Linked DNA regions of Homo sapiens. The protein of the gene in region 2 interacts with the protein of the main gene of each other region in a pairwise test. Each region holds a gene or a part of one and is shown on either strand. Other genes may lie near its edges.

The links.
Region 1: the proteins of SDCBP (region 2) and PDE4DIP interact in binary tests that used the Homo sapiens proteins (3 or more experiments, as listed by UniProt).

The regions. Positions count from the first base shown.
Region 1 is NC_000001.11:148,969,876-148,973,532, forward strand, and holds part of PDE4DIP (myomegalin), read left to right. Parts: intron 1-2,304; coding exon 2,305-2,469; intron 2,470-2,635; coding exon 2,636-2,717; intron 2,718-3,657. UniProt on the Homo sapiens protein: Functions as an anchor sequestering components of the cAMP-dependent pathway to Golgi and/or centrosomes.
Region 2 is NC_000008.11:58,566,761-58,570,417, reverse strand, and holds part of SDCBP (syntenin-1), read right to left. Parts: intron 1-3,657. UniProt on the Homo sapiens protein: Multifunctional adapter protein involved in diverse array of functions including trafficking of transmembrane proteins, neuro and immunomodulation, exosome biogenesis, and tumorigenesis.

The DNA.
Region 1 (3,657 bases), on a different chromosome or scaffold from region 2:
TTGTATTTTTAGTAGAGATGGGGTTTCACCATGTTGGCCAGGCTGGCTTACGATTCCTGGCCTCAAGTGATCCACCCATCTCAGCCTCCCAAAGTGCTGGGATTACAGGCGTGAGCCACCATGCCCTGCCCATAGTAAAGTGTTAATTTTTCCTCATTTCTATGTGTTTTCTCCTCAAGGCTAAAAACTCTTAGTTGACTTGTGCTGCATTTCAGATACCAGTAGCTCAGAATCCCCGTAGTCAGTTTTTAGAGGAAGATAGACTCTTTTTTGCCTATGTTATTTGACCCCATAATATTTTCTTATGTTTTCTTATGTTGTGAAAGGATTATACTCCACTATTCTAATTGTTAGGCCCACTGAAGTAAATACACATCTTTCTAGAAAGGTCCTGCTGTGTGCTTCAGAAATTGTTTCTAAAATAGACCTAACAAAATTATTCTAAATTATTTAAATCTTTGGCAAGAGGCTAGGATCTTTGAGTTTTCTTTTTAACTTCTTTGTGATTTGGGACAATTGGTCTTTATTATACCTCAGAAAAAAAATTATGCACTGCTGGTAATAGAATAATGGAGATGATGGAAATTACAGGAGATTTTTCAACTCAAGAAGATTAATGGTTGTATTCTTCTAGATCTGCTTCTCTAAATTTACGTGCAAAAGAAATCACCTGAATAGCTTTTTAAAGATGTAGATTGTGGAGCTCAACTCCAGAGAAAGAAATTACGAGGTATAGGTGGGACTTAAGAATTTGCATTTCTAACAAGTTTCCAGGTGATAGTGATGCTGCAGGTTCGGGGACTGCATTGGAGGAGCACTGCTAAAAACTCTTAAATACTACGAGAAAAGGAGTGCCAAGGCAGATAGAGCACAGTATATATCTTGTATATTATTTATTATGTTTTTTCCCCACAGTTTTCACAGATATTTTTATTAAGGTACTTTAATAATATTCTGATACGTCTAAAATAGTTAAATTCAAATCTCCAAAGAGCCCAAATTTTACTTACTGAAAAGTGGAAGGTTTTTTCATATTTCCCCTAGAAATTGTGACAAGAGCTCAGCTTCTGCCCTAAAACAATAGTACTTTTCCTCAGAGACAGTTGGTGTTATGATTCATCATCTTAGACCCTCAGTAATTTTAATATCAATTTATTATTTCCAGATTTTCTGTTTAAATGCAGACTTCCTGTGCATTAATAGTTAAAAATGTTCTAGATCTTTCCCTTAGTGTGTCATCATCTGTCTTAGAAAACTGGGATTTGAAATGAAACAAGCTGAGTTGGGTGATTTTGAGGTTGAGATTATCCTAATCATGTGGTCTGATAAACATGTTTATGTGCGTAATTGATTCATTCAGTAAATATGTAGTGTGTGCCTATTATGTGCCAGACACCGTACTGGGTGCTTGAGATTCAGCACCAAATTGCCTTTAGGAAACTTACATTCCATGTAGGGGAAGCAGAGAGAGAGATCTATTAGATAATGGTAAGTGCATCGAAAAAAAATTAAGCACAGTAAGAAGTGTTGGAGATAGAGAAGAGATTGCTGGGTTTTAAAAAAAATTTTTTCCCAGCTTTATTAAAGTATAATTGACAAATATTGTATATACTCAAGGTGTACAGCATGATGTGTTGATATACATATACATTTTGAAGTGATTGCCACAAATTAACACATCCGTCACTACACATTTTATGCGTGTATGGTGAAACCACTTAAGATCTACTCTCTTAGCAAATTTCAAGTAAATAATACAGTATTATTAACTAAAGTCACCATGCTATCATTGGATCCCCAAAACATATTCATCTTATACTTTGGCCAGCAAGATTGCTGTTTTGGATAGGATACGCAGGAAAGACCAACCTGATAAGGTGACATTTGGCAAAGACCTGAAGGGAGCAAACCACACAAATGTTTGAGTGAAAAGGAATCCACCCCTAAGAAGCAACTATCCGAGAATAAAGACATTTGTTATACTAATTCAAACCAGAATCTTAACACCTTAGCCTGATAGTTGTAGCAGAACCTATTTCAGATTCTCTTATCTGTTACAGATGTGTTAAATTCAGTTTTTTTTCCCAATATTCTGCCTATGAGACTTTCTTTCCATTCACTTAACTCTGTTTTTCCCTGTAAACTGAAAGCAAGGAAACTATTTCCTAAGGACCCACTGTTTTTTGTTGTTGTCATTGTTGTTTGTTTTTTACAAATGGTTGACTTTGAAGAAATAATACCAGAACAAAAAATTTGTTTTACTAGAATATCTTTATAATGTTATTTGTGATTTCCTCTTACTAGGCTGCTGCAGAGAAGTTGGTGCAAGCCTTAATGGAAAGAAATTCAGAATTACAGGCCCTGCGCCAATATTTAGGAGGGAGAGACTCCCTGATGTCCCAAGCACCCATCTCTAACCAACAAGCTGAAGTTACCCCCACTGGCCGTCTTGGAAAACAGACTGATCAAGTAAGAACTATAGACTTACATAATTCATGCTGATTCCATTTCCTTTTTACATTTGAGGTGTAAGTTTGATAATTTTAATACCAAATTCTGAGAATATTCTCAGTACTGTCATTGTGATCATAGTTCCTGCATCTTCCTAAGTCCCCTGACTTTTGCAATTTTTTAGGGTTCAATGCAGATACCTTCCAGAGATGATAGCACTTCATTGACTGCCAAAGAGGATGTCAGCATACCCAGATCCACATTAGGTAAGTATCAAATTTCATTTCATTAAGGGACTTTGTTTTTCTCTTGTTTTTTCTTCTAGTAATCTCTGTATTATAGGTTTGGCCAAGACTCTTTTCTCTTCCTACCTTAATAGAACAAATAAGTTTGGAATTCCTCTGAAAGGCTGAAGAACTGTCCTTACCTTATGTTGAGTTGAGCTGATTGCTCTGGGTTCACAATTCGGCCCAGAGAAATTCTATCCTTACTCTCCTTTTCAGATAGCTTTGCAGGGATTCAGAAATGCAGGAGGTAATTGTTCCAATCCTGCACAGCAGGGCCATGAGCTGACACCTTTTCCTGGGTATCGTTTCAAGTCTGGGGCCACTCACTGTAACTTGACATCACCTACTAATGTTATATATATATATAATGTTAGCATAGTTTGATAGTTTCTGGCACAATAAGATGTTCTATGATTACCTTTTGCTTTACCTGCCTCAGTCCCAGAATCAGCCATTATCCTAAAGAGCTCCCTGGTTCCTTTTGGTGGGTAATGGCATTCAGAAACTATGATCTGGACACAAGATGTGTTCATTGCTACATGAATGCCTTTTGCTTCTAGGACCTTTTTTTTTTTTGAGACGGAGTCTCGCTCTGTCACCCAGGTGGGAGTGCAGTGGCACGATCTCTCTGCTCACCTCTCGAGTAGCTGGGACTACAGGCGCCAGCCACCACACCCAGCTAATTTTTTTGTATTTTTAGTAGAGACGGGGTTTCACCGTGTTAGCCAGGATGGTCTCAATCTCCTGACCTCGTGATCCGCCCTCCTCGGCCTCCCAAAGTACTGAGATTACAGATGTGAGCCACTGCGCCCAGCCGCTTCTAGGCCCTTTTAAGAGAACAGAACTAGCAATGAATATTTTTAAGTATGTATGTGTGTATTTGTATATATGTGAAGATTTGATACTGATTTCCTTAATT
Region 2 (3,657 bases):
ATCTTCATTGCAGCAAGTATAGGAAGGGGTTTATGCTAAATACTTTTAAAATATCAGAAATTATGAAAATAGCACAGTTTATCACTGACATAAATCGATGATGACAAGGTAATGTAATTTGTAACTGTTAAACAAACTTGCCAAAATCACTCTGACACACTCTGACACTCTAGCATTTATCAATGCTACTCATGCTCAAGTATCCTCTTCTCAGGGCTGTCTTGATGGCCTACATCATATGAAGTATCTCACTGATGGAAATACTTTATCCTTTACAATTAGATCTGACTTTCTGAAATAGCTATATGTCATTAGAGACAAGTTTGGTAATAAGTTGTATGACCAATCTCTACCAACTTTTTACTTTATTGGAAATGTATCATTTTAAAAATGAAGTTCATAGTAGTATCTCAACCTAGCCCTAAAATCAATGTCAAGAGTATTCCCAAAGATGCTTGGAGATATGAAAGCTTAGTTTAAATAAGTAAAGCCTATGAAAGCTTTGAATGGTACTAAAATTATATGTTCTGATATACTTGTTGAGTCATCCTTTAATATTTATTATTTCATAATTTGTTAAACATTCTAGATTTAAACAAAATACAGCATGAAAATCTTTATAATTATAAATAACAATCCACAAATTGAACATGTGTTGAACTTTGAAAGTTCTTTCACCACCGATTAGCTAAAAGGAGCTAGTGGCTTGTTATATTACTTCTTGAATCATGTCTAACAAAAAAAATACTGTGCGGCACTGGGAAAAAAAAAAGAACTATAAAGACATGAAAAGACATGGAGGAAACTTAAGTGGATATTACTAAGTGAAAGAAGCCAATCTCAAAAGGCTACATACTTTATGATTCCAACTATACGACATTTTGAAAAATGCAAAATTGTGGAGATAATAAAATATTAGGCCAGGCACAGTGGCTGAGGCCTTTAATCCCAGCACTTTGGGAAGCTGAAGCTGGAGAGTTGCTTGAGGCCTGGAGTTCAAGACCAGCCTGGGCAACATAGGAAAACCCTGCCTATGCAAAAAATTGTTTTGGCCAGGCACAGTGGCTCATGCCTGTAATCCCAGCACTTTGGTAGGCTGAGGTGGGCAGATCACCTGAAGTCAGGAGTTCAACTGACCAACATGGCATGTTGTCATGTTTGTCATGGCCAACATGGCAAAACCCTGTCTCTAGTAAACATACAAAAATTAGCCGGGCATGGTGGTGGATGCCTGTTAATTCCAGCTACCCGGGAGGCTGAGGCAGGGAGAATTGCTTGAACCCAGGAGGAGGAGGTTGCAGTGAGCCAAGATCGCACCACTGCACTCCAGCCTGGTGACAGAGCCAGACTCCGTTTTGGGGGAAAAAAAAATTTTCTTTTTAAACTAGCTAGGTGTGGTGGTGCATGCCTGTAGTCCCAGCTACTTAGAAGGCTGTGGCAGGAGGATGGACGCTGCAGTGAACCATGACTGTGCCACTGTACTCCAGCCTGGGCAACAGAGCGACATCCTGACGCTAAAGAAAACACAAAAGCAAAAGCAAATTATTGGTTGCCAGGAGTTTCTAGAAGGGAAGGAAGAACAGGCATTAAAGAATTTTTCGAGCAGTGAACCTATTCTGTCTAATGCTACAATGGTATACAGTCATGTGCTGCCTGTTCTGGTCAATGATGAACCACATATACAATAGTGGTCCCATGAGATTATAAAAGAGCTAAAAAATTCCTACTGTCTAGTGACATCATAGCTGCCGTCACACAGAACAACTCATTACTTTGTGGTGATGGTGGTGTAAATAAGCTTACTGCACTGCCAGTCATATATAAAAAAGTATAGCATCTACAATTATGCATGGTACATAATACTTGATAATAATAAATGACTATGTTACTCATTTATGTATTTCCTGTGTTATACCCTTTAGAGTATATCCTTCTACTTACAAAAAAAGTTAACTGTAAAACAGTCTCAGGCAGGTCCTTCAGGAGGTATTCCAGAAGGCACTATTACCATTGGAAATGACAACTCCATGCATGTTACTGCCTCTGAAGACCTTTCAGTGGGATGATGTGGAGGTGGAAGACAGTGATATTGATGATCCTGACCCTGTGCAGGCCTAGGCTAATGTGAGTGTGTGTCTCAGTTTTTAACAAACTTACAAGCGATTTTTAAAAACTAAAAATTTAAAAAATAGGAAAAAAGCTTATAGAATCAGGATATAAAGAAAGAAAATATTTTATACAGCTGTACAATGTTTGTGTTTTAAACTATGTTATTACAAGAGTCAGAAAGTTAAAAAATTAAAGTTACAGGAAGCTAAGGTTAATTTATAATTCGAGAAAGAAAAATTTTTAAATAAATTTAGTGCAGCCCAAGTATAGAGTATTGATAAAGTCTACAGCAGTATACAATAATGTCCTAGGCCTCACATTCACTCACCGCTCACTCACTGACTTACCCAGCGCAACTTCTAGTCCTGGAAGCTCCATTCATGGTAAGTGCCTTATACAGATGTACCATTTTAAATCTTTTACATTGTATTTTTACCATACCTTTTCTGTGTTTAGATACACAAATACTATTGTGTAACAATTGCCTACAGTATTCAGTACAGTAACATGCAGTATTACTGTATCATACAGGTGGGATCATACAGGTTTGTAGCATAGGAACAACAGACTATACCATACTGCCTAGATGTGTAGTAGGCTATGCCATCTACATTTGTGGAAGTACACTCTATAATGTTTGCACGACAAAACTGTCTAATGAGGCATTTCTCAGAACATATCCGTCTTTAAGCAACACATGACTATATACACGTCACTATACATTTGTCAAAATCCACAGAACATATAACACCAACAGTGAACCCTAATGTGATGTAATGTAAATATGTAGACTTCAGGTGATATTAATGAGCCAGATGTACTGCTCTGGTGCAGATGCTGATACTGGGGGAGGTTGTGCATGTGTGAGGACAGAAGGTATACTGTACTTTCTGATCAATTTTGTTGTGAATCTAAAATTGCTCTAAAACACAGCTTATTAATTTAAAATACTTCTCCTTTGTATGTAGTTATGAATTTCTGTTCTTTCATTGCTATTGTTTTTAATCCAAGGAATACTGAAGAATACATATAGAAAGCTCCCTGCAAAGTTAAATTTAATTATGTTATTTGCAGTAAAAATGAAACAAAAGGATGTAACCCAATTTTAAGTACTGTAAACCATTAAATGTAGCTACTTATTTCAAACTTACTTTGAAATGTGACACTACTAAAAAAAGGGGTTGGGGTGCCCCAAGGAGCATGCCAGGGCCTATTGTTTCTGCCATTAACAGAAAGGATGTGGAAAAAACATGCTTGTAGCGTCACTGCTGCCAAATTCTGCCCACCATATTAGGAAACTGATAAGCTCTGGTTCTGTATATCATTATTTATTAAAAGCTTACTTTGCATAAGTAGAGGAAACCACAGGCTCTTGTCAGGATTTGGAATGGAGAGAAAAAGGTCTAGGGACTGTATGATGCTAAAAGCCACAGCCTAGTGGCTACTGCAGAATAGTTTACAAAATATGAATGGTTGGTTCATTGCTGTAATTTAGCTTTGCTGTGGTGTTAAAGGCCAGCAGATGAGAAAATGAATACTACCTTCCTT